Linked DNA regions of Homo sapiens. The protein of the gene in region 2 interacts with the protein of the main gene of each other region in a pairwise test. Each region holds a gene or a part of one and is shown on either strand. Other genes may lie near its edges.

Region 1 (8,697 bases), on a different chromosome or scaffold from region 2:
TAACTTAAATGTTTTCAATTGGGGATGTTCTATTTTGCAGAGGCATAGTTGGGACTTCTGACCACATTACTTTGAAAGATGTTTCTTTTCTGAATATTCTAACTGGAATACATTTCACTGGCCTACATATATTATAGTTTGTATAATAGAATTGTGGCAATTAAATAGAGCAGATGTGAAGGTTAAGAAAAAACTTTCCAATGAGAGTCAATGTCAGTGTGCCTTTTTTTTTTTTTTTTTGAGACGGAGTCTCGTTCTGTCGCCAGGCTGCAGTGCAGTGGTGTGATCTTGACTCACTGCAACCTCTGCCTCCCGGATGTGTGTGCATTTTTAAACCAAATGATCAGTATTTAACTGGTGAGATGGTTTTTGCAGATTTGTTATTAACATCCTTCACATTTGAATTTAATATGTCATTTTCTGAGTAAAAAAAGATGGAATATTCTTTCTAATTAGGGCAGCCTTTACTTTATAATTACCTCTCACCTTAACATACTGAAGATATGAAACAGGGTTACTCTCTGAGGAACCATTTATAATTGTGAAGGACATGTTGAGTCTTTACCCCAATTTATAGTTTTAGCCATTACCTTATTGGATTCGGTTTCAGTCATACATCTCTAGCTTAGTGCATCCAGCCTTTCCACATAGAAAATTATAAGTGTGGTGCACTGCTGTAAATGGAGGAGGCTGATCTTGGCAGGAGGCCCCCGCCCTGCCTGCCCACCCAGGGGGCTGAGGCCATCGATGATGGCCTTGCTCACTTGTATGTCACTCAAAATACATCTGCGTGCTTAGTTGGGATGCTCTGACTTTGCTGCCCTTTCTCCAGAATCTTCAGGGAATAGAGTATACTGCTGCTCCTTCCGCCAGGATTGCTCTTGTGTTCTTTCCTCTGTCCTAAAGAGAAAAGATACTTTTCATAGGCCCCTTGGCCCCACTGTAGGTAATAGTTGCAGTGGATTTGTTCACTTGGCCAAAGGGCATTTGTTCATTTATGGGGTGCTACCTAGTTCTTGCTTATCATTCTACAATGTAACAGATGTGTGATAGAAATATGTGACCTAGCTTAGGATTGTAGAAGTAGATGCACTTATATTTTACCAGGCTTATTCTTCTTTTATACTTACCTATTTATATTTTGTTCAACTTCTGATTGAGATTTTACATAAGTAAAAATATCCATGTGAGTGTAGTTATTGGTTAACAGTATTTGAGTTTTCTGTATTTATTTCATTGTGTGTTCTTTATAAGCCTGTGCATGTGGATTTAATATGCCCATCTTTTTAGTCTAACAAATAAACTTTAATCTTACTTGATTATACACAATTTAGCAAATGGGTAAAGGAATGCTTCAGCTCAAAAGGTAGAATTATGACCTTAAACTGTCATTTATTAAGCTGTAAAAGAACTCATCAAACTTTCTAACATGTGACTCGCTTTTCCCCTAAATATGATTATGTACTGATAATTTGGTATTCTATCAGACTCAGACGCTTGCATTTATTAAAGTTGTCCTACTGTATTTTCCTTAGTTTTGTATTCCAAGTTGAAGGGGGGGATTGTGGTTGGTCAGGTGGGTCATGATTTGGTATAGAAATTGCCATTGAAATCTCACTTTTTTGCCTTATTCTTTGGAGTTGCTGTCTTGATAAATTTTTCAGTTTCTTTTGAGGTGATAACTTAATATACTCATATAGTTTTTCCTTTTTTTCTTTTTCTTTCTTTTTTGTCACTGGGGTAGAGTTTTCAACATAAACAGTTGTTTCCTAATTTTCCAGCGTTTAAAACCGTATCATAGTAGTGGTAAATGACAAAAATTATTTTCTTATTATCTAGGGTATATTTGTTCAGCTAGTCCAGGCTAATTCTCCAGCCTCATTGGTTGGTCTGAGATTTGGGGACCAAGTACTTCAGATCAATGGTGAAAACTGTGCAGGATGGAGCTCTGATAAAGCGCACAAGGTGCTCAAACAGGCTTTTGGAGAGAAGATTACCATGACCATTCGTGACAGGTAAGCTGTTACTAAACAGCTCAAATGAAAATTCAATACTAGTTTTCCATTTTTTTGGGCTTTCAGAGTTTGTGAGTATATTATTTTGTTGCAGAAAATGATCAAATGTTATTGATGAGCCTTATAGTCTTGCAGTTGTGTGGTGCAGATTTTTCTTACATTGTTTTTAAAGCATTCTGATACGATACCTTATTTCAGAGTTTATAGGACAAATCTCTCTAGAAAATAGAAAACGTATGTTGGAGAAGTAACTGAGTTGCAGGGCATCTCTGGGCTCACTTTCCAACTTACTGCTTAGATACATCCAGCCTAGGGTGTTCACACACAGTGGTCCCTCATTGTGAGGGTCAGAGCCCATGCAGACTTCCAAGTAGTATGGGAGTTCTGAAAACCGTATCAAGACTTTTGGGTAGTTATGAAGCAGTAGTTTTCAAGAACATGGAATATTCTATTTAGCAGCTCATTCATTTAGAACTTAAACATTTAGCACATGAAATAGGGGCCTCCATTTATTTTCTTGTCTACTCCATACCCAATTAAGGGTAGACGTATATTGCATTGTTACAGTAAGCTTTGAGTTTTTGTTCCTTCTCAGTGAAACTTCTGTTTTATCTTTGTGTTTCCAGTTTCTCATTCAGTTTAGGTATTTCGTAAATGTTTCAGATGAATGTCCTTTTTACTTTCTATCTAAGCAGAGTTTCAAAGAGTAAGTTGTACTAACAGGAAGAAATGCCTCTTCTGAATTTAATAATGTAAACACAAGTTGATCCTAAAACCCTTATGATAACATGATAACAGAGTTTATAGAGAATCAAGCAAATGTGACTGCTATAACAACTCTAGAGGGACAGCTGGATGCCTTTTAATAATAGCTGCATGCCTCCCTTTCCAAAGGGGCTTGAGGAACTTAAGTCTTACTGCTGCTCTAGTTTTTCTTTTCAAAGATAGCAATGTATAAAATTTTCAAAATCAAGATGTGAGAAATATTTTAAAGGTTTTAAATAAAAGAAATAGTCCTAAAAATGATTTGGCTCTAGAAAATACCAAAAGTTAATAAAAAATAAAAATTATCTTTACCACTGTGATTTAGTTAAAAAGCCTATGTCATTCTTAATGCTGTAAAGTCTAATTATAAAAGAAAAACATATTGATAAAACCATATAAAGCAGTTGTCTTTTATACTTAAAGAAGGAAATGTTGATTAGTAAATCAGTCAAACCATAATGAATAAACTTAAAAAAAACTTTTACACAAAGATGTTCCGTGAATGTATAAAATCAGAGCCATAAGTTGCTCTTATTAGAAACAGTGTTTATTATAAAAGTATCCAATATGGCAACATTTATGCTATATGAAATCCATTAAAATGTTTAGCTTAGAATTAAGTTTTTAATTGAACCAATTATGTTTGTAGGCCCTTTGAACGGACGATTACCATGCATAAGGATAGCACTGGACATGTTGGTTTTATCTTTAAAAATGGAAAAATAACATCCATAGTGAAAGATAGCTCTGCAGCCAGAAATGGTCTTCTCACGGAACATAACATCTGTGAAATCAATGGACAGAATGTCATTGGATTGAAGGTAAGGAACAGACTTTGTGCCATGTTCTGCTGCAGTTTTAGAAAATGTCTGTCTTTTGACTGTATTTAGGTGGCGCTGTTTTCATATTGACTTAGGTGGGAGATGGGGAACGTGGGGCCTGAACTCTTGGTCTGGCCAGTCACCGGAATTATTTGGGCTGTCATCTAGAACTACAGTTCCTATAACAAGTGGGCTGGAATAAATGATCTCAGAAGTACCTCACACTAGAATTCTGTGGAAATATGGGCAACAAAGATTTAGAATATGAATAGTGGCCCAGCATTTCTCAATCCAGGAATATAAGGAAATGAATAATAGTTTTGGTTCATATTAATACTTTATTTTTATAGTTTTTCTCCTCCACAAATTCCTAAATAAGTCTGTCTTAAGGTCAAAAAGTTTTAAGCATGACCTCCTCATTTCATAGAATTTGATTTAGAATACACAGTTAATAAGAGGAGATGGTAATATTGTATATGGGGAAAATTATCTAATATTCAGAAAGGAAAAGTTTTTTTTTGGTTAAAATATTCAACTCAGTTTACTTAAGCAATTTGGTTACTAGCTGTAAAATAGTGTACAATTAAACTTGGTAAGAAATACTAGAAAAAATTAGAAATACCAAGACATATATTTTGTATTTCTTTACCAAGACTGGCATAGTTTTGTATTTATTAAATAAAGCCTCTGTGGAATTAATTTTTAATATGTGTTTTTATCAGGACTCTCAAATTGCAGACATACTGTCAACATCTGGGACTGTAGTTACTATTACAATCATGCCTGCTTTTATCTTTGAACATATTATTAAGCGGTAAGTAAACAATTCCTCAACTTAATGCATATGGTCATGTGACTTAATATAAGCACTATACTTTAATTCTCAGCCCTTTGGTTCTTTTACCCAAGGAATGGATACTGGTGTTTTATCTAGAAATTTGAAGTAAGTTATTTAAATCAGAGGGTTGGTAAGGATGAGCTCTTACAACTTCCCAAGTACGGAATAAAATTCACATATACTTTCCTCAGTTTTTATAATGCCTGGTAGAAAAAAGGTATGCAAGGAGAAGTGGGCATGCTTTCAGCTTTCAATTTGCAGTGCAATTGACTGCAGTTGCACTGCCTACCACCCCTCTGCTCAGTATAAATATAGTTGTGGTGGTTCGTAATGGAGAATTCTTGCTGGTGGAATGCTAAGAGTAAGTTTCCCTTCTCTCCAGAATCTCAAGAGGCAGATAGACAAGTGTGGTGTGTTGGTGCTATCTGTGCTCAGGAACTGAGGATTAGAAAGCCAAGTGATCAGAACTGAAAAGAGGCAACAAGGTTCCTTCTATAGAGCTTTTCATATCCTAGCATCTACCATAGCTGTTTTTGTCAAGCCAGCTTGGAATCCTTTCAGAAGCTCTATTATGCATGTGAAAATGAGATTTAAAAGATTCATAAACATAACCATTGTAATGAAATTTTTGTGTTGGCTTCTGGATAGAATGCACCTAGCTACCCTTGGAGGGGGTAAAAAGGAGTTATTGTCATGACTAATTTTTCTAGGGTTCTCTTTTCTTAAATCACTGATGGATCCCTCTACCCCAACTCATCACAGCCTTGTCATTTTCTTTCTGTTTTTTAAAAATCACCATGTTTAATGCACAGGAATTCATTTGTATCCTAACTTCTCTAGCCAAATACAGATAGTCTTTCCCACTGAGTGTCTGTCAACAACTAGATTACCAGAGATGCTTCTGGACTCATTTAAAAGATCTTTCCCTTCTCTCCATTCATATTTGATGCTAACAGGTGCTAAATTGGAATTGGGAATTTTCTTGGATTAATGTAGCATTTTGAAAAACAAAAACCAGAATCTCGGTATATAATAAAAGTACCTCTCTTGTAGGATGGCACCAAGCATTATGAAAAGCCTAATGGACCACACCATTCCTGAGGTTTAAAATTCACGGCACCATGGAAATGTAGCTGAACGTCTCCAGTTTCCTTCTTTGGCAACTTCTGTATTATGCACGTGAAGCCTTCCCGGAGCCAGCGAGCATATGCTGCATGAGGACCTTTCTATCTTACATTATGGCTGGGAATCTTACTCTTTCATCTGATACCTTGTTCAGATTTCAAAATAGTTGTAGCCTTATCCTGGTTTTACAGATGTGAAACTTTCAAGAGATTTACTGACTTTCCTAGAATAGTTTCTCTACTGGAAACCTGATGCTTTTATAAGCCATTGTGATTAGGATGACTGTTACAGGCTTAGCTTTGTGTGAAAACCAGTCACCTTTCTCCTAGGTAATGAGTAGTGCTGTTCATATTACTTTAGTTCTATAGCATACTTGCATCTTTAACATGCTATCATAGTACATTTAGAATGATTGCCTTTGATTTTTTTTTTAAATTCTGTGTGTGTGTGTGTAAAATGCCAATTAAGAACACTGGTTTCATTCCATGTAAGCATTAAACAGTGTATGTAGGTTTCAAGAGATTGTGATGATTCTTAAATTTTAACTACCTTCACTTAATATGCTTGAACTGTCGCCTTAACTATGTTAAGCATCTAGACTAAAAGCCAAAATATAATTATTGCTGCCTTTCTAAAAACCCAAAATGTAGTTCTCTATTAACCTGAAATGTACACTAGCCCAGAACAGTTTAATGGTACTTACTGAGCTATAGCATAGCTGCTTAGTTGTTTTTGAGATTTTTTAGTCAACACATAATGGAAACTTCTTTCTTCTAAAAGTTGCCAGTGCCACTTTTAAGAAGTGAATCACTATATGTGATGTAAAAGTTATTACACTAAACAGGATAAACTTTTGACTCCCCTTTTGTTCATTTGTGGATTAAGTGGTATAATACTTAATTTTGGCATTTGACTCTTAAGATTATGTAACCTAGCTACTTTGGGATGGTCTTAGAATATTTTTCTGATAACTTGTTCCTTTTCCTGACTCCTCCTTGCAAACAAAATGATAGTTGACACTTTATCCTGATTTTTTTCTTCTTTTTGGTTTATGTCTATTCTAATTAAATATGTATAAATAAAGTTACATTTTAGTCTGTCTATTACTGCATCATTTGCTTTCACCAAACTTATGCATGATCTAGAAGACAGGCAGGTGAAATTCACTTTCAGCTGTGGGAGACATCATCTCCCAGAACAAGCTGACATTCAGGGGCCCTAAGAACAGCTCTCAGTGCTGAGACTGAGTGTCAGGAAAATTGCTTCCAGCTGGGAACCCCAGATTACCAGGGCCAAAAGAAGAGCTGGTTCACACCTGCCATGCAGCAGGAACTCATTGAGGCTACTGATTGTCCCTAGCAATACCTGAGACCAGGTAATATTTAATAACACTGAAACTGACTTTGGAAATTCTATTAGTGTGGTCTGACTCAAGTTTTTTCTCCTATGTCATACTACCTGCAAGATACAACAATGTTTTTAAAGAGTATAGAAAAAATAATAAGTCACACACTTACCATGGTTCAGAGGTTGAATATAAAAGGAAATCTGCTACTGCTATACAGCTTACCTTGTTTGAAATTTAGAAGAGAAAAAAATATTTGATTATCTACCTGAGTCTGAAGATAATTTCAAAATAATGGAATTACATTCATATCACTAAATATGGTTTTCTAGAAGATGATTCTAGACTTGTGGTCTTAAAAACACTAGTCTTTTAAGTTACTTAAATAAAGTGAAAACAGCTTTCTTTAGAGAAAAATATTTTTAATGTAGAAAAGATGAATAGCTGTAATGAAATACAAACCGTTCCTATACACAGTAAACTTACTAAGAACTGCTAATCCTTCTCCAGGTTCTTAGAATCTGGGTACAGCATTATAGAAAGTAACCACGCTATGAAAACACACACCCAAAACCCGATGGGTGGCAATTGTGATAGATTAGGAAGACAAAACAGATTCAGAAGTAGCAGAGAATACTGCACATTTTCTTGGAAAATTTCTTAATTGTTCAGTGCTTTCTGACAAGTTTCCCCAGCCCAATTTATCTCTTAGCTATTCTCTGCTACTTAGTCCTGTCTTCTGACAATCATCATACGGGGACGATCATCTGCCTTACAGTGTAACATGTTTTTCCTAACACAGCCGCATTTTATCTGCCCTAAGAGAATAGCAACTAATGGCTTTCAATGAAGTCACCATGATTTAGAAAGTTTAAAACCACAAATTTTCCATGTGGTAAAACTTCTAATTACTAACATTGCACATTCACCAGTCCGTTTAAAAGTTTGGTTTAAAAATGCATTAAATAGAGTTCAATTTAATATTCAGGAGAGGAAAAGGCACTTAATACTGCAATTTCCAGAATATAATTTGTCTGTCTTCCCCTCCTGTGATGATACTGCTACACTGTTCATTCATCCATATACATGTCACAGCACCTGAGAGAAAGACATTTTGGTTAGTTAGGAAGTTGACCAGGAGGCACCCAAAGATAAACTTTACTCTGATGCTTACTCTTGCTTTGCTATTCATTTACTAAACAAGTGAAGTAAGTTCTATTTTTTCTTGTCTGCTTCCTATAATAAAACCCTTGAATAAATTAAAAATAATTGCTTGGTACAAAGATCTTGTGAGGAATACTAAACCATTTAAGTGTAAATCTAAAGCTAAAACAACTGGGAATTATGGATATAGAACAATGCAAATAAATACCTTGGCGAAGTAAGTACAATACAGGTATAACATGACAAAAGTTGGGAGACAGATGTGAAGGAAAAGGTGGGGTTATTGGTGTAAGGTTATTGGTTTATTTCCTTTTCCACTGGAAGGGGTCAAATCACATTAAAGTTACTAAGTTGAGAACAAAAGTCACAAAGAATTTCATTTTTTTTGAAATAGTCTCGCTCTTGCTCTTACCCAGGCTGGAGTACAGTGGCATGATGAAGCTCACTGTAGCCTCTGTCTCCTGGGCTCAAGCTAGCCTCCCATCTTAGCCTCTTAAGTAGCTGGGACCACAGGCGTGTGTCACCACACTTTTCTAATATTTCTGGTTTTTAGTAAGAGATGAGGTTTCGCTATGTTGCCAAGGCTGGTCTCAAACTCTTGACCTCCCACTCTGGCTTCCCAAA
Region 2 (10,166 bases):
GTGACTCTTATGAATACTAAAATTTGAAGACCAATATCTAATTAACACAAATTAATAGAATAGATTAAATGTGTATAAGTCAAGAGAGCTGGGTGCAGTGGCTCACGCCTGTAATCCCCCAGCACTTTGGGAGGCTGAGACGGGTGGATCACCTGAGGTCAGGAGTTCAAGACCAGCCTGGCCAATATGGTGAAACCCCATCTCTACTAAAATTACAAAAATTAGCCGGGCATGATGGCGTGCGCCTGTAGTGCCAGCTACTCGGGAGGCTGAGGCAGGAGAATCGCTTGAACCCGGGAGACAGAGGTTGCAGTGAGCTAAGATCACACCACTGAATTCCAGCCTGGGCAACAGAGCGAGACTCCATCTCAAAAAGAAAAAAAAAAAGTCAAGAGAATAGTGACAAGTACCTAACACATGAAAAAAAGGATGAAAAAAACAAAAAAGCCAGGCGTAGTGTTATATGCCTATAGTCTCAGCTACTCGGAAGGCTGAAGTGAGAGGATCACTTGAGCCCGGGAGATGGAAGTTCTACTGAGCCGAGATGGTGCCACTGCACCCCAGCCTGAGTGACAGAACAGGACCCGTCTCAAAAAGAAAAGAAAAGAAGAAAGTACTTAAAATGTTGGCACACTATACTCTCAAGAACTCAAAGTGATGTTTGAAACTTGTGCATTTGATTTTGATGTTGAAAAAACTAAATGTGTAAATATGCAAGCCATTCTAATGTCTGTGAAAAACACAGAGTATGATTTGTAAAGAACTCTTAATTAAATGTAAGATGGCATAGTATCAAGAGCATATGGTATTGCACCTAGTAGATTAACAAATGTTTGCTGGTGATGTTAACTATTTTTATAATGAGTACAGTTATATTTAATTATTTCCAGCCTAACCTCTGGTAACCTAAACAAAATCAAACTTTTTGCTGTGAATATCTTTACACAAGTAACAGCATAAAAAATTGTCAAATATTATGTCAGACGCTCATGTGTAAGTTCAGGGTCAGGGCACTTACTTTCAGACCAAATTAACCTCTGTTTTTATGCTCAGACTTACATAAACAAGGATAGGTAAAACCAAAGTTAAATTTCTCATGACTAAGAACACTGCATGATAGAACATATGGAACTCAAGTTTCCCTGAAAATCACTAAAATATTTATATAACGATAGTATTTTTTTCCAATTTTTCTTAATTTTTAAAATCTTTCTTTTTTTTTAATTTTAAGAGATGAGGTCTCACTCTGTCACCAGGCTGGAGTACAGTGGTGCAATCACAACTCACTGCAGACTCAAACTCCTGGGCTCAAGCAATCCTCCCACCTCAGTCTCCTGAGTAGCTGGGGCTACAGGAACATGCCACCAGGCCTGGGTAATTTATTTGTTGATTTATTTGTGGAGAGCGGGTCTTGAACTCCTTGGCTTCAAGAGATCCTCCAGTCTCCACCCCCCAAAGTGCTGGGATTACAGGCATGATTATTATTTAGAATAATAGTCTTTATTATTCTAAGTAAAGATTCCTGAAGATGCTGAAGTATTAAATTCTCTCCCCCTTTTTTTTTTTGAGACGGAGTTTTACTCTTGTTGCCTAAGCTGGAGTGCAATGATGCGATCTCTGCTCACTGCAACCTCCGCCTCCCGGTTCAAGCAATTCTCCTGCCTCAGCCTCCCAAGTAGCTGGGATTACAGGCGTGCGCCACCACACCCGTCTAATTTTTTGAATTTTTAGTAGAGACGGGGTTTCACCATGTTGGCCAGGCTGTTCTCGAACTCCTGACCTCGTGATCCGCCCACCTCAGCCTACCAAAGTGCTGGGATTACAGGCATGAGCCACCGTGCCCGGCCTGAAGTATTAAATTCTAACTCATAATTTTACTTCAGTGAGGTAAGTCTACTTTGAATTGGCAGGAATAAAGGAACTTTATATAACTCTTAAAAGATCTCATTATCAGAATGAAAAATGCATCTACTTTCCCCCTAAAAAGCATCTTTCCCCTATGAACTCATAAACCCAATGAAAATGTTAAGTTCTAGTCTCTTGACTCACTTATTTAGATTAAGTCTTAATAATGCATTAGGAAACCCAATTATAGTCCATCTACCCCTAAGATGCAGCTGTTTCAACATTTCCATACAGGATTCTTACACATCTATAAATGAAATAAACTATACTGGAGGAATGAAGCAGCCAATGCATGCAACAAGTTATATAGGCAATAATGTTGCTTTCAAAGGAGTTTTTGTTTTGTTTTGCTTTGTTTTTCAAATGGAGTCTCACTTTGTTGCCCAGGCTGGAGTGCAATGACACCATCTCTGCTCACTGCAACCTCCGCCTCCCGGGTTCAAGCGATTCTCCTGCCTCAGCCTCCCGAGTGGCTGGGATTACAGGCCCGCGCCACCACACCCGGCTAATTTTTGTATTTTTAGTAGAGACGGGGTTTCACCACGTTGGCCACGATGGTCTCGAACTCCTGAGCTCAAGTGATCCGCCCGCCTCAGCCTCCCAAAGCGCTGGGATTACAGGCGTGAGCCACCGCACCCGGCCGAAAGGAGATTTTTCATCTGTTATCAACAACTGGCTTGATACATAAAGATCCAGAAGCATCTTAAGTTTTCTTCGTCACTTTTTCATTTCACAGCTTATGTTTTAAAAGTCAGAAATCCCAGAATTAAGTAAAGTCTTAAAGCAAGCTAGTGGTAAGATAGAGCTGTACGGACTTCTTCATCAAGGACTTCCATATCTTTCCAACAAGAAACGAACCAATATTCATCATTAAGCACCAGCTCCCAATTTCCCAACTTCCTAGATACCATTCCTATGCTATATGTAACCCTTCTTCACACAACGTCAGACTTACCCACACATACACCATCAGTCCCCAAGTCTCCCACATTGGCACAAAAGCCTCTCAACATTCATCTGGTTACTAATCAGGGACCACTTCCTTCTTCCACTGATTCTGCACAGGCTTCATATCGCCTACAATCGCTTTTTCCATTTCTTCCACAACACTAACTACTCAAAGCGACAAAAGAACAAGTCCCTTTTCCCCAATCGTAAACAGCTTTTTAAAACTCTATACACCTCCTTCCCACTCAACCCCTTTTCTTAGTGTCTATCCGCCTTTGTTATTCAGAAGGTGTAGGGTCTGGGAAAATCTCACTCACCTCATGCTATAGGCACCAGCACCCAGTTCCTGGCCGATCCCGGACAGGCTAGCATCAAAGTCCTGCACCAACCCGGATTCAATCACTTCGTCGGCCAGAGGCAGCTTCAGAGCCCAGGCCATCCTGGCTCCTTCCTTGCCCCAGGAGACACCGTGTCTTGTACAAAGGCGCGGAGGGTAATTCTACCCAACAGGAGTAACGCAAACCAAGAAAACTACAAACCAAGGTTTCCCACGCAGTGCCCACCAGCCACCCCCAAGCCCGACCAGCACTGCTCTGTGCACAACTAATCTCCCGTACCCTTGGCTGCTCGTTCTTGGCTGCCCCAGGTTCCAAAATCCCCCCTGCCCAGCTCTCAGGAACGTGAGGACCCCTTTGCTCAACTACTGCAGACTTCCCAGAGGCAGCTCTGGACTCCCGCACTCCCACTCCTCTTGAGAGTTCGTAGTGGTGGCTTGCTGCTTCCCAGTCAGACCAGCAGCAGCCGCAGGAAGCCAGCCCGGCGCTCCCACGCTGCTTTTGCACCTTTTCCCCCGCCCCTTTCTGCTGGAGGCCCCCTCCCTCCCAGGTCTCGCTCTCTCTTTCCCCTCCAGGCCTCGCTTCCGGTCAGTCCCACGATCACTTCCGGTCACCCCTTCTCAACCCCACGGCTTAGAACCAAATCCAGGTTTCCGCTGAGCCGACTTCTCGCCCTCTGTAGCCCCCCACGGCCTGGAAACATGGAAGGAGAAAGTCCAGCACAGGCGTAAAACCTAGACTCGCCAGGCCCTTCCACCGTCCGCCGCCCCAGCGCCAACCAATCATGGCGTCCTCTTTCCTCGCCTGCCCGGCGAACATGACGTCACGCTGTCGTTCGCCTATAAAGAAGAGACCGCGTCAGTCTCGGCAGCGATGATAGGCGGGCTGCGCCACGGCTCTGCCCCCGAGATGGGCTGGGCGATCACGGGGAGGACCCGGCGTGCAAGTGTCCGGGTTTAAACGTGTATCCGTGTAGTTACCAGAGTTCTGGTATTCGCTACCCATCAAGTCGTCACCCTGAGCCATGGAAGGAGCCCTTCTTCTAGCCTTATGAACCCACTCCACCCCTGGCGGACTCTTGACGGCTTCCCAAACGCTCCTTACGTGTGTGCGCTTGCTCCTGCCCATACTCCTGTCTCCTTAAACTCACCTCTCCGGAGGTCAAGACCCTGCATAAGTCCCACTTCCCTGTATATTCATTTTATCTTCGGCATCCTCTCTAATGCATTTGAACAGAAAAGCATGAGATCAGTAAAAATGTGGTTTTTAGGCCGGGCGCGGTGGCTCACGCCTGTAATCCCAGCACTTTGGGAGGCCGAGGCGGGCGGATCACCTGAGGTCGGGAGTTCAAGACCAGCCTGACCAACATGGAGAAACCCCGTCTCTACTAAAAATACAAAAATTAGCTAGGTGTGGTGGCGCGGGCCTGTAATCCCAGCTACTCGGGAGGCTGAGGCAGGAGAATCTCTTGAACCCAGGAGGCGGAGGTTGCAGTGAGCCGAGATCGCGCCATTGCACTCCAGCCTGGGCAACAAAAGTGAAACTCCGTCTCAAAAAAAAAAAAAAAAAAAAAAAAAAAAAAAAAAAAAACAGTGGTTTTTAAAAGGTTGTTGTGCTGGTATGGGGTGTTGGAATTTAAAAGATCTGAAAATCAGAGTTTAGGCTGGCGTCTTCATTTGCTACTTTGGTGTCTTCAGAACAATTGCTTAATGTCACAGATTTAGCTTCCTCGTTTGTAAACGGGAGTGGGAGTAACTTTATCTGCTCCACCTTCCTCCTTTGAGGATTGAGTAATAATGGCCATTGTTTATTAAGTATCAACTACTGCTAGGAACTTTATTACACTATGAGTAGTCCTCAAAGCGATCTTGGAATTAGAATTATAAAGCTAAATTTAATGACTCTTATTTTATCAGTAAGAAACCAAGGCTAAGCCCTTAAATTGGCCGGAGCTAAATTGACATGCCAGCTTCAGAGCTGATTCCAAAGCCTGGCATTTTTCGTTACAAGACATTGCCTTTATGTGAAAGTCTTGGTTCATTGTTGTATTCCGTTGCTGAATTTTTTAAAATCTGCCTTGACTTATACTTTTGTATATATCTGCCTCTCTCACTAGATTGATCTAAAGAATAAGGAATAGGTCTTTTTCAGGCTTGCGTTCTAAATATCTCCTACTATAGTTCCTGCTTTCAACAGGACTTTTAAACATGTTTATTGAATTTAAAAAGGAATGAAAAAGGAATAAGAGAACCAAGAAAAAGAGAGAAGTTGACATGAAGATGGCAACATGTTGTGCTGGTATGGGGTGTTTCAGCCACAGGCATCTCTCTGAAGGCTCCAGGCTTAAACCTGCCGTCTTACCTTGGTAAGCCCTAGGATCAAAGTCTTAGCTCATTCTGGAGACATTCAGTATCTCTTTAAGCCATCTTTTCTTCCCATGAGCCAGTTCTATCTCAAAATGTGTGACTGTGGATAAAGGAATGGGTCCTGGGCTCATAGACAAAAAGAGAGATGTCACATGGAGATCTGAGGGCTCAAAGTTTTTGGGTTTTGTTTTTGTTTTTGAGATAGAGTCTTGGTCTCTCGAACAGGCTGGAGTGCAGTGGCGCAATCTCAGCTCACTGCAACCTCCATCTCCCAGGTTCAAGCAATTCTCCTGCCTCAGCCTCCCGAGTAGCTGGGATTACAGGTGTGTACCACCACACCCGGCTAATTTTTGTATTTTTAGTAGCGACGGGGTTTCACCATGTTGGCCAGGCTGGTTCTGAACTGACCTCAAATGATCCACCTGGCGCAGCCTCCCAAAGTGCTGGGATTACAGGCGTGAGCCACCGTGCCCGGTGGTCAAAATCCTTTGTAAACCAGCATTGTACTTAGGGTATTTTTAAACCTCTCTTAGATAGAGCCATGCCTTGTTTGACCATCAGCTCCATCTCTAGCTGTGTAATCTCAGGCAAGTAACTTTACATCTCTGAGCCTCAGTATTTTAATGCATAAATTAGTGAAAATAATACCTCCCCCTAAAATTGTTGTGAGTATTTTTTTTTTGAGACGGAGTCTCGCTCTGTCACCCAGGCTGGAGTGCTGGAGTGCAGTGGCGCGATCTCAGCTCACTGCAAGCTCCGCCTCCCGGGTTCACACCATTCTCCTGCCTCAGCCTCTCCGAGTAGCTGGGATTACAGGCGCCCGCCACCATGCCCAGCTAATTTTTTTAATATTTTTAGTAGAGATGGGGTTTCACCGTGGTCTCCATCTCCTGACCTCGTGATCCGCCCGCCTCGGCCTCCCAAAATGCTGGGATTACAAGCGTGAGCCACCGCGCCCAGCCTGTTGTGAGTATTAAATAAGGTACCAAAATGCCGCAAAAATAGTAATGATTCAATAAATGTTATCTCCAGTCTCCCACTGGTAGTACACTTCTGCTTCTCTGTTAAGATTGGGTTGATTTTGTTATCCTATTTTAATAACATTAATTTACATTGTATAGTATGTTATGGGCTTGGGATTTTTTTGTTTCTTTTAGAGACAGGGTCTCCCTCTGTCACCCAGACTGGAGTGCAGTGGCCTGATCATAGCTCACTGTAACCTTAAACTCCTGGGCTCAAGCAATCCTCTTGCCTCTGCCTCCCAAGTAGCTGGGACTACAGGTGCACACCACTATGCCCTTTGAGACTGAGTCGCGCTGTGTTGCCAGGCTGTAGTCAGTGGTGCGATCTGCAACCTCTGCCTCCTGGGTTCAAGCGATTCTTATGCCTCGGCCTCCCAAGTAGCTGGGACTACAGGCACATGCCATCACGCCCAGCTAATTTTTGTATTTTTAGTAGAGACAGGGTTTCACCATGTTGGCCAGGATGGTCTTGATCTCTTGATCTGCGCGCCTCGGTCTCCCAAAGTACTGGGATTACAGGCATGAGCCACAGTGCCCGGCCATGTTTTCTTTTTTTAAGTTTTGGTTTTGGTGTTTTTGAGACAGGGTCTCACTCTGTTGCCCAGGCTGGAATGCAGTGGCATGATCACAGCTCATTGCATCTTGCACCTCCCAGGCTCAAGCAATTCTCCTACCTAAGCCTTCCGAGTAGCTGGGACTAAAGGCATACACCACGACACTCAGCTAATTTTTTATTTTTAGTAGAAATGGAATCTTACTATGTTGCCCAAGTGAGTGTCAAACTCCTGGGCTCAAGCGATCCTCCCACCTCAGCCCCCCAAAGTACTGGGATTACCGTGGCATGAGCCACGGTACCGAGACTGTTATGGTTTTAATAGCATTTATTTATTTATTTATTTATTTATTTATTCATTTATGAGACGGAGTCTCCCTCTGTCGCCCAGGCTGCAGTGTAGTGACGCGATCTCGGCTCACTGCAACCTCCGCCTTCTGGGTTCAAGCAATTTTCCTGCCTCAGCCTCCCGAGTAGCTGGGACTACAGGCACACGCCACCATGCCTGGCTAATTTTTATATTTTTAGTTGAGACGGGGTTTCCATGTTGGCCAGGCTGGTCTTGAACTCCTGACCTCATGAGATCTGCCTGCCTCTGCCTCTCAAAGTGCTGGAATTACAGGTATGAGCCACTGTGTCAGCCACCGTGTCCAGCCTTAATAGCACTTTAAAATACATTGTCTTGGCCTGGCACCATGGTTCATACCTGTAATCTCAGCATTTTGGGAGGCTGAGGCAGGAGGATCACTTGAGCCCAGGAGTTAAAGATCAGCCTAGGCAATATAGTGAGACCCCCTTCTCTACAAGAAATTTAAAAATTAGGCATGGTGGTGTGCACCTGTAGTCCCAGCTACTCAGGAGGCTGAGGTGGGAGGATGGTTTGAGCCCAGGAGTTCGAGGCTACAGTGAGCCATGATTGGGCCTTTACACCCAGCCTGGACAACAGAGCAAGACACTGTCTCTATTAAAAATAAATAAATCAAATACATCATATCATTTAATCTTCATAGAAGTTTTTGTTTTGTTTTTCAATATGAGGAAGCTGAGACTCAGGACAGAGTGGTCAGGATCAAGCAGAACTCTTTAAAAATTATCCTGAAAATTATTTTGTGATTCAGCAACTCCTTTCTACATATATACCCTAGAGAAACTCTTCTACATACATACCAGGAGACTTGTATGAGAATGTTGATGGCAGCACTCTTTTTGGTAACAAAATGGAATAAAAAAATTCTCCACCAGCAAAAGAATGGATAAATTAGACTGGAATATAATATTATTGAGCAGTGAAAATGAATAAAGCTATACTGAACTGCATGAATAAATCAATCTTAGAATTGAGGGGGAAATTCAGAAGTCCTCATACTGTGTAATATCACCTTATAAAGCTCAAAAGCCAGTAAAATTAAGCAATTATCATTTAGGACAGTATGCAGTTGACCTTTCAACAGCACAGGTTTGAACTGCACAGGTCTACTTATTTGTGGGTTTTCTTTTTTTTTTTAATTTTTCATTTTTGTTGTTTGTTGATATCTTCTAATATTCATGGATTGTCTTTCACCTCTGACACTCCTGAGAGATTAAGACCAACCCCTCCTCTTCCTCCTCCTCTTCAGCCTACTCAATGTGAAGATGAGGAGGAAAGACCTTTTTGATGATCCATTTCCATTTAATGAATAGTAAGTATATTTCCTCTTCCTTGTGATTTTTAAAATATTTTCTTTTCTCTAGCCTACTTTATTGTAAGAATACAATATATAATACATAAAACATAAAATATATGTCCATTGACTATGTTATCAGTAAGCTTTCGGATCAACAGTAGGCTGTTAGTAATAAAGTTTTAGGTGAGTCAGAAGTTACACTTGAACCTTCAACTGTGTGGGGATCACCCTCACATTGTTTAAGGGTCAACTTTACATAAGTCCTTTCAAAAGAAATGAAATAAATACAATTATAGTGATGGCCACATCTAAGGAGAGGCAGGGGAATAGGTGAGGGAAGGAACTAGAAAATAGCTTCAGCGTGGCCAGGCACCGTGGCTCACACCTGTAATCCCAGCACTTTGGGAGGCTGAGGTGGGCGGATCACATGAGGTCAGGAGTTTCACACCAGCCTGACCAACATGGAGAAACCCAGTCTCTACTAAAAATACAAAACTTAGCTGGGAGTGGTGGTGCGTGCCTATAATCCCAGCTACTTGGGAGGCTGAGGCAGGAGAATCTCTTGAACCCAGCAGGCAGAGGTCACAGTGAGCCAAGATCAGGCCACTGCACTCCAGCCTGGAAGACAGAGTGAGACTCCGTCTCAAAAAAAAGAAAAGAAAAGAAAAGAAAATAGCTTCAGGCTAGGCGTGGTGGCTCACACCTGTAATCCCAGCACTTTGGGAGGCCAAGGAGGGCAGATCACCTGAGATCGGGAGTTTGAGACCAGCCTGACCAACATGGAGAAACCCCATCTCTATTAAAAATACAAAATTAGCCGGGTGTGGTGGAATGCGGCTGTAATCCCAGCTACTCAGGAGGCTGAGGCAGGAGAATAGCTTAAACCCAGGACGCAGAGGTTGCAATGAGCTGAGATCACACCATTGCACTTCTGCCTGGATAACAAGAGGAGCGATACTCTGTCTCAAAAAAAAAAAACAGATAAAAAGAAAAAGAAAAAAAGATAGCTTCAACAGTTCTTTTTTTTTTTTTTTTTTTTTTTTTGAGACAGAGTCTCACTCTGTCGCCCAGGCTGGAGTGCAGTGGTGCAATCTTGGCTCACTGCAAGCTCCGCCTCCCGGGTTCACGCCATTCTCCTGCCTCAGCCTCCCGAGTAGCTGGGACTACATGTGCCCGCCACCACACCCAGCTAATTTTTTGTATTTTTAGTAGAGACGGGGTTTCACCGTGTTAGCCAGGATGGTCTCGATCTCCTGAACTTGTGATCCACCCACCTCGACCTCCCAAAGTGCTGGGATTACAGGCGTGAGCCACCACGCCCAGCCTCAACAGTTCTTAATAGTTTACGTAAGTGGAGTAGTGGGTGCATGAGT
Region 3 (8,605 bases), on a different chromosome or scaffold from region 2:
ATGTGACGAAGTATAACCTGTAAGATGTGAATGTTGATAGGTGGGGAAAGCAAGAAATGAATGATAGTTGTTGTACTTATTGATTGAGCATTTAAAAACCTTATCCTAAGAAGGTAAAATTAAGCAGGTTTGGCAAGAAGGAAATCTAGAGTTCTATTTTGGCCAGATTAAGTCTGAAACATCTATTAGACATCCATGTAGAGATATCAAGAATATATCAAGAATACATATATACATACTTGGATGTACAAATCTAGAGTTTGCAGAGACGTTAAGCTGGAGATATTTATTTGAGAGATGTTTGGAAAGGGCACGAACGTGCCTGAAAGAATCTGTTCTTGGCCAAGACTCCCAGGAACTCCAGGAACCCTTTCTCATAAATTTACTATAAAGTACCTCATGTGAGAGAAAATTACTTCAATTATTTTCCCAAAAACTAGTTAGTCATATTTCCTGATCTTTTCAAAACAAAGAGAGATACATTTAAAGGAGTAATATTAAATAACAATATCGTAGGAAAGGACATTTTGCTTACTGGTTCCAGGTTTTGTAATCTCTACCTGGCACACAGATAACCCTTCCTACGAGTGAGAATGTAACTCTTCTAATCCACTGGATAAAGGTTCACATAAGTTTTATGTATCTAAGCCAAGATACATCATCATATGGTAACAAGTTAACTTATAACTTATCTTTTTTCATCACACTGGTATAAATAATTAATTAACCATAGTATCATTTTTAGCTTCACGTAGCTCACTGGAATTCTGCAAAGTACTCCAGCCTTGCTGAAGCTGCCTCAAAGGCTGATGGTTTGGCAGTTATTGGTGTTTTGATGAAGGTGAGTTACAGATAATTACACAGCTCTGCTTCCACTGTCTTACCAATTAGACCTCAAAATAGAAGGAAATAAGGCAACATATATTTTAGAATTTCTTATTTTAAAGTTTCCATTTAACCGATGACTACAGGTGAACAAATAGTTCCCTAGTATTTTATTGCTTGGTTTTATCTCTGCTTTTCCCTCTTAAAGAGAGAAATGAGTTTCAGGTGGAGGTGAGATAGAAATGTGTTCACAGGGAAAAAGGAATTTCTATTTTCCAGCTCTTCCAAATTCCCTTTCCTCTAAATTTCCTACATCATAGATTCTGAAATTTATTAATTTAATGTCTCATCAGGAAAGAAATATTATTAAATATTAATAAGGAAACCTGAAATCATAGATTCAGAAATTTATCAATTTAATATCTCATTAGGAAAGAAATAGTAAGAGAATTTTTTCTTACAAAGAATATTCAATTGATTTTTTAAATGGGAGATGTTGCTCAAATCCTCTATAGAAGAATCCCTGAAAAGTTCTATGAAAAAGTTATTATTAAATTGGGTATGCCCGGGTAACCAAGTAACTCTTGAAATTATAGCACTTCTACTTAACCTTTACTGAGCACTTACAATATGCCAAATACTGTAGTAATGAAAACTAATATAACAGACCAAAATAAGAGATTTGTTTTTGTGTCAGTTTTGATAAATTACTAGATTTTGCCCTGTATAACTTTGAACATATTGCCAATAATTAAGTTTAAATCAAACTTTTTGTTTGCTACTTTTATCTGTAGGTACATATTATAAACAATTTATAGAGTACAAAGGCCCTCAAAGACATACAGCTTGAAAAATCTCCCCTTCTAAAGCAGAGAGAAAATACCTTACCTCTTGTCAGTTGTTAATTGAAAAAAAATTCAAAATTTAGCTAAGCAGTGTTCGATTGATAATAATCTTTATCTCATACTTTATTTTCTTAAATCTCCAGGTTGGTGAGGCCAACCCAAAGCTGCAGAAAGTACTTGATGCCCTCCAAGCAATTAAAACCAAGGTAAACACACTAAATAAGTAGTTTAAATCAGAGAACAAGAATTTACAGATCTATGGAAATCATTTAATGAAGTATTAAAACTGGGGAGTAGGAAGGCCATAGTAAAAGCTACCAACTGAAAATCAAGGTGCTACTTCAATACTGCCTACCTCTGAGAAAGTCTCTAATGCAGGGAATTGTTTTGGTTTTCTGTTTTTCATAGTTATGGTTTATTTATTTCAGCAGAATATGGCCTGTAGAAAACCAGATTACATAGCCATTTAAATTTGCTTGAAAAACTATATCTAACAAAATTGTGATTTTCCATTTGATAAATAAAGATATCTCTAGTTTTTTAGCAGTAGAAAAATTCAGAAGTAAAGGGCATTCTTTTGAGATATGGTTGATATACAATCTTTGATAACCATAACTCTTGTCAACTCAAAAAAAATGGATTTTTTGATATATACAAACTTAGCTTTATTGTTTTAAAGGTAAGCAGTTAAACCATAAATCAGAGATTTGTCATGTTTTGCAGCATGGAGAACTGTCATATATTTGTGTAAAATGAATCTGATTTATGCTGATTCTAGAAAAGATTAAACTTAAATGATTGTCTTATAAAGTATAAATGACAGAGATAAAAAATAAGCCCTCAACTCAAGAGTTATCAAAAAAATATGAAAAGAAAATATAAGGAAATAATTAGTGAAGATAAAAGCAGAAAAGAATAAAATAAGAAAGAAAAATGATGGCCGGGTGTGGTGGCTCATGCCTGTAATCACTGCACTTTGGGAGGCCGAGGCGGGTAGATTGCTTGAGGTCAGGAGTTCAAGACCAGCCTGGCCAACATAGTGAAATCCCATCTCTACTAAAAATACAAAAAATTAGCTGGGCGTGGTGGCGCACACATGTAGTCCTAGCTAATCAGGAGATTGAGCCAGGAGAATCGCTTGAACCCAGGAGGTGGAGGTTGCAGTGAGCCGAGATTGTGCCACTGCACTCCAGCCTGGGTAAAAGAGTGAGACTCCATCTTAAATAAATAAATAAATAAATAAATTTTGAAAAGAAAAATGATGGCTAAGTAAGGGGTAAAATTTTATCAATAAATTGAAAAGTTGATTCTTTGGAAGAACAACAAAAAAGTCAGACTTTGGGGAAGCTGGATAAAGAGAAAAAAAGCCGTACATATAAAACATTATTAGAAATAAATAGGTTGTGACTAAAGATATAGAAGAAAATTTTAAGAGACAAAATTTTTTATAACATTATGCCAGTAAATTTGAAAATTTAGATAAAATGGATAATTTTCCAAGAAAATGTGAAATAAGGGAATTGACTCAAAAGGAGTTAGAATACCTAAATAGACTGAGAACCTAAAAGTAAATTTAAACAATAGTCAAAATGTATCTATTAAACAAAAAGACTAGGCCCAGACCACTTCATGGAAAAGGGTTACTCAACTTTTAAGAAACAATCATGCCAGTGTTAACTAAAGTGCCCAGATGAAGGAACAGACAGAAAACTTCCCATCAATTTAATGGAATCTGATACCAAAACCAGGTATGAAAACTACAAAACAGACAAACAAAACAAAAAACATAGGATAAACTTTCTTAGGAATATAGCTAAAGGAAATCCTAAAATTTATTATAACAAATCAAATTCAACAGTGTTTTAAAAGAGTAGTTTCTGAACTAGTAGAGTTTATCCCAAAAATACAAGAATGACTCAATATTAGAAAATCTTAAATTAATTCATTATATTAACTAGTTAAAGGTGAAGAAAACCTCATGATCAACTTGTTAAATGCTTAAAATCATTTGATAAAAGTTAATGCCCTTTCTTTAGGATGAAACAAAATGAAAGAAAACTGTCTGAAAACTTATTGAATTTGATAAAGAATTTACCTAGAAACTTGTATCAACATTTAACTTCATAGTGAAACACTTGAAGCATTTACATTTCAGTCAGGGACAAGACAAAAGTGCCACTGTGACCATCACAATTGAAAATTATAATAAGGGTCCTAGTCAGTGCAACAAAATAATGAAAGAGTACATATTATGATAGATATCGAAAGAGCAAAAACAAAACTATCATTATGTGCAGTTGATATCATCACTAACATCCACCTGAAAACTCCAGAAGAATCATCTAAAATACAGAATGCATAAAAGATTAGCATACAAATATCAGTATATTTCCTACACACCAGTAACAATCAGAAAAGACGATAGGAATAAATAGAATAAAACTGAAACAACCAATATGCATGTCAATAAAGATTTTTGCCATTGAAATAGAATCTGGCATCATTCCTAGAGAAAAAAATAAAAGCTTTATACTAGAAATTAAATATGTTTTAAAGATATAGATTGTAAAAAAGATTTTTGAATCTTTGCTTATCTGCAACCAAATGAAGAAGGAAGACGTCTTGGTCAAAAACTTACATATAACACATTTTTCATCTTTTTTTCTTCTGTTGATATTATTGTTTATATCCACAAACACGCCAGTCATGAAATACTAAATAGTAGAAAAATCAATGACTCTTAGCTAAAATCTCTAAATAATGTATAACAAGATAATATAGCATATATATGTCACATATATTCATATAAGTATTTTATATCATGCTGTAATGATGTATTCTTTTCTTCCAGGGCAAACGAGCCCCATTCACAAATTTTGACCCCTCTACTCTCCTTCCTTCATCCCTGGATTTCTGGACCTACCCTGGCTCTCTGACTCATCCTCCTCTTTATGAGAGTGTAACTTGGATCATCTGTAAGGAGAGCATCAGTGTCAGCTCAGAGCAGGTAGAGTTGTGAATGAATGGGAACTGGGAATGCGTAGCAGGAATATTACTTTAATTGATAGTATCAGTGAGAGAGATTATTATTTCAGTCAGCTTTGTGAGAAGTTCATTTTTCCTCCCAACTTAAAAATATTAATTTGGGGACATAGGTTTATTAAACTATCCAAAAATGCATTATAATACTTTATTTTGCCTTTATGCAGAAAAAAAATGACTCCCGCCACTCTTTCCTCCTTAATAAGGAAAAGTCCAACCTTGTTAAATATCTTCTTAAGCATTTCAGAAATAAAGGAAAAACTGTGACTGGACATTTCAATAAGACTTTGGGGAATTGTGGCTCCCAGCTGGCATACCTTGATAGTTGGCAAAATATTTTTGTTCCTTTTGTGGAGCTTAAACTTTTAAATATTCAACAAAATATCTCATTAACTGTTGTTAATAATGGTGATTATAGTAAGTATCATTCATTGCTCTACCATGTTTATTACGTGCCTTACATATGTTTTATTAGCCAATTCTCATAACAAACCTACAGGACAAGCATTGTAGCCTGTTGCTAACTGACATTTATTGAGCACATGCTATGTGTCAAGTATCATTCTAAGGGCTTTGCATGTATTAACCCATTTAATCTTCACAACAACACAGTGAAGTAAGTACTTATGGAAACTAAGGTACCAAGCTAATAAGTCGCTCGCCCAACGTACCCCAGCTGAAATTAAAAAGTTGATACTTTAACCCAGTCATCAATAATTAAATCAATAAAATAAAGCAAATAATTAAATTTGCTTTATTTAATTGATTTAATTAAATAATTAAATCAATAATTAAAGCAAAATGCCTGGTTCAAAGAAATGAATGTAAAGGATTTGGGGCTTTCTCTCTTCCTATTAGTGATATTACTGCAATTTCTAACTCAGTTTTCTAAATATCAGTGCGTTAGTAATCCTGTAAATAAAACGCTTTATGTAACTTTAAAAACTTTTTATTTTTAAAATATTTTATCCTTCTAGCTGGCACAATTCCGCAGCCTTCTATCAAATGTTGAAGGTGATAACGCTGTCCCCATGCAGCACAACAACCGCCCAACCCAACCTCTGAAGGGCAGAACAGTGAGAGCTTCATTTTGATGATTCTGAGAAGAAACTTGTCCTTCCTCAAGAACACAGCCCTGCTTCTGACATAATCCAGTAAAATAATAATTTTTAAGAAATAAATTTATTTCAATATTAGCAAGACAGCATGCCTTCAAATCAATCTGTAAAACTAAGAAACTTAAATTTTAGTTCTTACTGCTTAATTCAAATAATAATTAGTAAGCTAGCAAATAGTAATCTGTAAGCATAAGCTTATGCTTAAATTCAAGTTTAGTTTGAGGAATTCTTTAAAATTACAACTAAGTGATTTGTATGTCTATTTTTTTCAGTTTATTTGAACCAATAAAATAATTTTATCTCTTTCTTTCTGTTGTGCATTCAGTTTCTAAAACCATTAAGTTTCTACTCCATTTACATTCAAAAATCTTAAATACTTTACTTGCAAGAGTATTTTGCTTCAAATACAACAACCTAAGAGCAGCTGGAGATGAAATATTGGGAAATTCATTTGCTTACTCCTGAAGACAAAAATATAGCTGAGATGACCACTGGATTTAATATCGTTATGCTGGCCCAACATTGCTACCATTTGTGTTGTCTGTGATCAAAATGATTATCTTTTATATAGGAAGATGACGCTTCTGGATATTGCTTTCACTTCTTCTCCCCACGTTAGCAAGGACAATGCTTCTCTGCCATTATTACAACTAGTTAGTTTGCATGGAGAATCTTTACTTTAAAATTGGAAGAAAAGTCACAAGTGAATGGTTTATAAAAATGCTAAAGAAGTCATTCTTGCTTAGAATCATATAGAAACATCATGCAATCTTTTAGTCAGATGTGCGCTTCACCTTATGCTATTTTTATCTTTAATTGACACACAATAATTGTACATGTTTATGGAGTATAGTGTGGTGTTTTCTGTTTGTTTGTTTGTTTTTTGAGACAAGGTCTCACTCTGCCAGTCAGGGTGGAGTGCGATGGTGTGATCATAGCTCACTGCAGCCTCAAACCCCTTGGCTCAAGGGATCCTCCCACCTCAGCCTCTTGAGTAACTGGGACTATAGATGCCTGTCACCATGCCAGCCTAATTTTTAAATTTTTTTTTGTAGAGACATGGTCTCTCTATGTTGCCCAGGCTAGCAGTGTGATATTTTGATTCATGTATACAATGTGTAATGATCAAATCAGGGTAATTAGCATATCCATTACCTTAAACATTTATCATTTTTTTGTGCTGAGAATATTCAAAATCCTTTCCTCTAGCTATTTAAAAATATACAATAAATTATTGTTCATTATAGTCACCCTATTATGCTGTAAAACACTAGAACTTATTCCTCCTATTTTGCCGAAGCCATATCTACATCCAGAATTCTACAAATCCTGTGTCCAGTGTTTAATCTTGTGATTTACTTTAGTTATCTCATTTGAAGTAGTAAAGACCAAGCCCAATTGTTCATTTCTGTAAGTTTTAGTAAAATTACTTAAAAAACATTAAGCAGATTCTTCACTGCTCTAATAAGCCTTTCTGCAAAGGCTGTGTTTGTTTTACACCTAAAAACCATACTAAGAGACTTCTTTTGAAATATTTGACTTGGGGCCTAGAATTTAGGTGAATCCTCTTTATTAAAATGTAATTTGTTTTTATTTTATTTTTAATCAAAATTAATTTGTTTTTCTACACAAAGTTGGGAAATTTATAATTTATTAATTGAAAAAATAAATACAAATATAATGGAGTCAAGTAACACATTAGCTCTGCCCCCACGTGTAATCTCTAAATATAAAATATTTTATTTGCAAAGGAATCCAACTGTGTATGATACTCTATATTTGCCAAATATTGAGAAAGCCTGCAACACTTATACCTGGCCTAGGATCCTATTACTTCACATGAGTTGTATTGATAGGATTTTAATTATAAAGTTATCAAAGGCTCTCAAAAGGTGGGAGCCAAAGAAAGAGGGATATGAGCTTAAGTTGAGAAATACATTTGCAAAAGATGTTCATTTGAAAACATTTTCTGAAAAGAAATTAAACAATTTAGAAATAAGTTTCACAGGAAGGATCTGAAAAACACTTGACCTGATGGTCCATATATTTTTTAAGAAGGTTAAAATGGATTCCAGCATTTAGATATAAGTCTGTAAGTCTTATTATGGACAGGGCAAAGATGTGACAAAAAAATACATGATGACCATCAAACATTATCCCTAAGGCAAATGCCAAATGGGTAGCATGTTTCCCCTTACTGCCTCTGCCAGAATTTCATATATTTGGCAGAACTCATGAGATTCATTATGAATTTCTCTGAAGTAGCCAATAAAAACAGCTGTTGAGAGGAGGTATGTAAACTAGGCATTGGATCATCTGAGAGTGTAACTCATATGTGTCACTGACTCACCCTCCTCTTGTATGTCCTCATCCTTTGTCAACTTACATAAAGAATTTAAACATCCTGCAAGGATTCTCTGGCTTTTCCATGATGTTTGGCAGCTGACCTTCTTTATGCCACATCTATTGGCATCTAGAATGATAAGCCAGCTGGTGAGGCCCAGCGTGGGCTCTAGGATAAAGAGTGCTCTTACTGCATGCTGTTTTCTGCCTTTTCACTTGCCCTTCAGAAATACCCTGCTGTACCGTTATCACTATGGCACCCTTCTGCTGAACTGTGAGTCCAGGTAGACCAAAATATTTTCTATATTGTTCATTTATGTAAGGTTTAGCAAAATGACTCAAAATACATTAAATTCATCATAACAGGAATTAGGGCAAAGGAAAGAAAGAAAAAGAAATATCTTCATTAAATTTAATTTCCTTACATGACTC
Region 4 (4,174 bases), on a different chromosome or scaffold from region 2:
CCATGATAGGGTCGGGATTGGCTGGCTCTGGAGGCGCAGGTGGTCCTTCTTCTACTGTCACATGGTGCGCGCTGTTTTCTAATCACGTGGCTGCCACCCAGGTAAGAAGAGGCCGCTCTTCCTGGGGTTGTTTCTCCGTGTGACGTGTGGCCTTTGAGATCAACTCTCCTGTACCAGCGTAGGCCGCATGAGTGGGGGGCGGGCTCCCGCGGTCCTGCTCGGCGGAGTGGTGAGTGACCGGCCCCGCCCCGCCCCTTCCGGTCCTCGAAGCCTCGACCGCTACCCGCACCCTAAATCCCAGAGGTTGGCCCCCTGAGGTGTGAGTGAAATGAGCTTTTGCTTTATTTTCCAAGTTTCTCTCTCACCTTCAGGGGCATTCTTCGGGGGTGCATCAGAGGGAGGGCAGAGCCTGAGGATCTAAGCGAAGGCTTCCCCGGGTGTAATTTCCTGGGCTGTTTGTGAGGAGAGATCGAATTCGCCTCCTGCTCTCAGGCCTCTCTGCTCCTGTCTTTTGTTTGGATGCCGGCGCTGCTGCCTGTGGCCTCCCGCCTTTTGTTGCTACCCCGAGTCTTGCTGACCATGGCCTCTGGAAGCCCTCCGACCCAGCCCTCGCCGGCCTCGGATTCCGGCTCTGGCTACGTTCCGGGCTCGGTCTCTGCAGCCTTTGTTACTTGCCCCAACGAGAAGGTCGCCAAGGAGATCGCCAGGTAGGGACCTCGATGTGCAGCGAGAAAGGATGATCATGAAGGGACAGTTGGGGGTGGGGCAGAAGAGTGCTGCTTTCTCCTTTCTCCAGCTCTGGAAGCCTGTCTCTGGGCTGCCAGTACAAAAACTGGGGTTATGGGGTACTCTGAATGGGACTGTCTCTTCACTCCAGGGCCGTGGTGGAGAAGCGCCTAGCAGCCTGCGTCAACCTCATCCCTCAGATTACATCCATGTGAGTCATAGGAGTTGGGGGGTTAACCTAACTGTAGGAGCTGACTGGGAACCTCTTTCCTGGGGGAAATTCTTTGCTCCCCACAACTCTCCCCCTCTGACCTTTCAGCTATGAGTGGAAAGGGAAGATCGAGGAAGACAGTGAGGTGCTGATGGTGAGAAACATTTCCCCCACCCAACAAAATATCCCCAATCCCTGACCCCTTTAGCCCTTACCCCTCTTCTGAGAAACTGAACTCAATCCCACTCCTTGATTCAACCATGTTTATCTTTGTCCCTTAGATGATTAAAACCCAAAGTTCCTTGGTCCCAGCTTTGACAGATTTTGTTCGGTGAGAACTTTGAGATGGATGGGGTGAGGGTGTGTACTGTGTGGGTGTGACTTGCTGGGCAGTCTAGGGCTTGCGTGTAAGGGAGTGGGTTCTTTTGGGTAAATCTTTGAGTGATCCCCTTCCCCCACCCACCTATTTTGTAGTTCTGTGCACCCTTACGAAGTGGCCGAGGTAATTGCATTGCCTGTGGAACAGGGGAACTTTCCGTACCTGCAGTGGGTGCGCCAGGTCACAGAGTCAGTTTCTGACTCTATCACAGTCCTGCCATGATGAGCCCTGTTCCTGCTCATCATGAAGATCCCCGCGATACTTCAACGCCTTCTGACTTCCAGGTGATGACTGGGCCCCCAATAAATCCCGTCTTTGGGTCTCTCTGCCTTTTGCCTGTTTTTTGTCATGTATGCAAATTTGTTGGGAGAATATAAGTGCTTCTAGTCCCTGTATTCTCTACATCTTTCAGAATGACTCAGAGCTGCTAGATTTGTTTATTTCTCTTTATTTCAATCATACAGAGTCCGGGATCCCTTATCATCCTCCCTCCTCAGTCTCTGCCCCCAGGGGTTAAATAATTTTAAAAAATATTTAAAAAGCTGTAACAAAATAACATCAAAGGAAATGGGAAGGATGGGAGGGGTCAGGAATCATGAAGGAGGGTAGAGAAGAGGGCCTCTTCCCCACTCCCCACTCTTGGATTCCAGCCTGGGCAGTAGGGAGAACTACCCCCTATCTCTCCAGGTACATCCCAGCTGTAGGTGAGGTCAGAGGTCAGGGTATGAAAGTGCCGGTGTGTGTGAATGGGGAGCTGGGCAGAGGCAGGCTGTTCAGAAGATGCCCCCTCCTCCCCACTCAACCAGGTACTGCACAGAGCCATCAGGCCGTACTCTCCGAGCAAGGACCCGGACAGGGTCCCCTCGGGACAGGTAACCAACCCCACCTCGGACTCCTCCCCCAGTCCCAGGAGACAAACTACGGCACAGGGGAGAAGGGGGTGCTGAGCGTCTAGGAAGACCTGGGGATGGGGATGAAACTGAGGAAGATGAGGCAGTCATCGAGTGGGGGGCACTTTTAGGGATGTCTGTGGGGAAACCAATGTGAAGTTCCAGGGGTGACCTAGGGAGAGAAGGCAATTGTAAGAAATGGGCAGAAATGGAGAGCACATGTGAATCAGAGAAACAGTGTTAGAGACTAAGAGCCTTGAGCACATAGAGGGGAAGAAGAGCATCACTGGTAATAGAAGACAGAATCTCACCTGTCTGGGGGTCCACTGTCCCCAGAGGTCCCTGCGGTGCTGGCAGAAGGGTGGAAGGAAGCAAACATCCGGATGGGGCTGCTGGGGTTGGAGTGGGGAAAGTCAGGACCTGAAGCAGGGGAACAGGACCTTCTCCCCCTGGGAAGTGCAGAGCTCAAACACTACCCCCAAGGGACTCCCTTCCCCAGAATACTGGCTACCAGACACTAGTTCTAGAAGTCGGTCTAGGCCAAGAAGTGGGTAGCCAAGGGGGAGAGGGAAAAGAATTCTGGGTGATAAAGTCCAGAAGATGTGAATAATTGGGAGCATATTTTGTGGGGGAGGGGCAGAGGAGCACTGACCTGGGCAGGCAGCGGGCATCTGTGGGCCGGAAGTTGTAGCCGCTGCTGCCCTGGTAACTCTGGTTAGGGCTGGGGGATGGTGGAGACACTGAGGCCTAGAAGAGGGGGCAAAGGACTGAGAGATAATCCTTGACTCCTTCCCACACCCCACCATTTGCTCCATCGGGTTCCCCCTGCTCCAGTACCTGCAGTGCCCTCTGCAGATGAGCCCGCTCCCTCTGCTCCTGGGGCTCGGGCTGATTGCGCACTGCTGAGGGTGGCCCCAGCTCCTCCACTTTCCCCTTCTGCCTCCTCCTCAGGGGCTCTGGCTCCGGCCTCCGGCGCTTCCCCAGGGGACGTGAGACCCCTCCCCCAGGGCCCTGCCCTGAAGGGAAGCTGTAAGAGGCCTCCTTATCCCCCCAGCCCCCTCCCGGACACCCCCAAGACCTCCCCATCTCTATACATATACCCCCCAGGACTAACACCCTGAGAATTTCCCCCATCCCCCCTGGACCAGTGACCTGGTGAGTGCTCCATCTCCAGTAGGGGGCTCCACAGGGGGAGGCATCCGAGCATGGAGACCAAACAAACATTTCCTCTTCTTAATCTCTCTCCCTGAAATGAAACTGGGGCAAGAAGAGAAATGATATAGGGTCAGTGCTGTAAAAAACGGTTCCTCCTTACGCCATTCCTCAATCCTTTTCAGTCACAGTCTTCCAGGTGGGTTGCAAGCCCCTCCCCTTCCAGGCTTCCACTCTCCATCTCTTTCCGAGCCTCATCCTTGCCTCCTCTTCCCTCCAACTCACCGGTCCTTGTGGCTGTTAAGAGCAGAGAGGAGCCTGGAAGAACGTTCTCCTTTGGGGGTGTCTGAAAGCTGGGAGAAATGAAGAAAAATGGGGCCAGGGGAGCAGTGATTTCTTCTCTTCCCCTTTCCGCTACATCTCCCTGTCCCATCCCAACCCCCAAAACTGCACTACCCCTTACCTCCCCCAGGAGCAAACTGTCCCAATTCTCAGAAGTGAAGGGGAGGATCTCACGATCAAAATCAAAGTATTTCTTCTTACAGCAAACACTGAGGTGATACAGGACAAGATGGGCCACATCCACCCTGGAAAAACAAAGTTTTCAAGACCACAGAGGCATTTTAAGAGCCAGGGGAGTCCTGAGGTGGGAGGTTGGGGCATATAGAGTGAAATACTGTGGTGTGGAGTTACACTGAGGTCATGCCCAATCCAGCTCACCAGCGAAGCTGTAGTCTCCGGACTTTCTCAGGGCCCCCGCGACACACACAGCATTCAAATTCATAGAACCTGGACATGGGCAAGAGGGAGCAAACA

The links.
Region 1: the proteins of TFCP2 (region 2) and SDCBP interact in binary tests that used the Homo sapiens proteins (3 or more experiments, as listed by UniProt).
Region 3: the proteins of TFCP2 (region 2) and CA1 interact in binary tests that used the Homo sapiens proteins (3 or more experiments, as listed by UniProt).
Region 4: the proteins of TFCP2 (region 2) and PHF1 interact in binary tests that used the Homo sapiens proteins (3 or more experiments, as listed by UniProt).

The regions. Positions count from the first base shown.
Region 1 is NC_000008.11:58,576,194-58,584,890, forward strand, and holds the end of SDCBP (syntenin-1), read left to right. Parts: intron 1-1,839; coding exon 1,840-2,015; intron 2,016-3,429; coding exon 3,430-3,601; intron 3,602-4,323; coding exon 4,324-4,415; intron 4,416-5,492; coding exon 5,493-5,547; 3' UTR 5,548-6,665; downstream 6,666-8,697. Other genes in the region: NSMAF (protein FAN), read right to left, coding at 7,913-8,007. UniProt on the Homo sapiens protein: Multifunctional adapter protein involved in diverse array of functions including trafficking of transmembrane proteins, neuro and immunomodulation, exosome biogenesis, and tumorigenesis.
Region 2 is NC_000012.12:51,169,131-51,179,296, forward strand, and holds the start of TFCP2 (alpha-globin transcription factor CP2), read right to left. Parts: upstream 4,006-10,166; 5' UTR 3,293-4,005; coding exon 3,171-3,292; intron 1-3,170.
Region 3 is NC_000008.11:85,325,761-85,334,365, reverse strand, and holds the end of CA1 (carbonic anhydrase 1), read left to right. Parts: intron 1-745; coding exon 746-841; intron 842-1,813; coding exon 1,814-1,876; intron 1,877-4,521; coding exon 4,522-4,677; intron 4,678-5,689; coding exon 5,690-5,806; 3' UTR 5,807-6,758; downstream 6,759-8,605. UniProt on the Homo sapiens protein: Catalyzes the reversible hydration of carbon dioxide. Can hydrate cyanamide to urea.
Region 4 is NC_000006.12:33,414,014-33,418,187, reverse strand, and holds the end of PHF1 (PHD finger protein 1), read right to left. Parts: intron 4,148-4,174; coding exon 4,079-4,147; intron 3,946-4,078; coding exon 3,822-3,945; intron 3,712-3,821; coding exon 3,644-3,711; intron 3,464-3,643; coding exon 3,359-3,463; intron 3,234-3,358; coding exon 3,044-3,233; intron 2,974-3,043; coding exon of another isoform or gene 2,954-2,973; coding exon 2,859-2,953; intron 2,599-2,858; coding exon 2,518-2,598; intron 2,379-2,517; coding exon 2,090-2,378; 3' UTR 1,749-2,089; downstream 1-1,748. Other genes in the region: protein CutA isoform 3 precursor, read left to right, coding at 188-229, 493-707, 878-937, 1,046-1,091, 1,219-1,268, 1,412-1,538. UniProt on the Homo sapiens protein: Polycomb group (PcG) that specifically binds histone H3 trimethylated at 'Lys-36' (H3K36me3) and recruits the PRC2 complex. Involved in DNA damage response and is recruited at double-strand breaks (DSBs).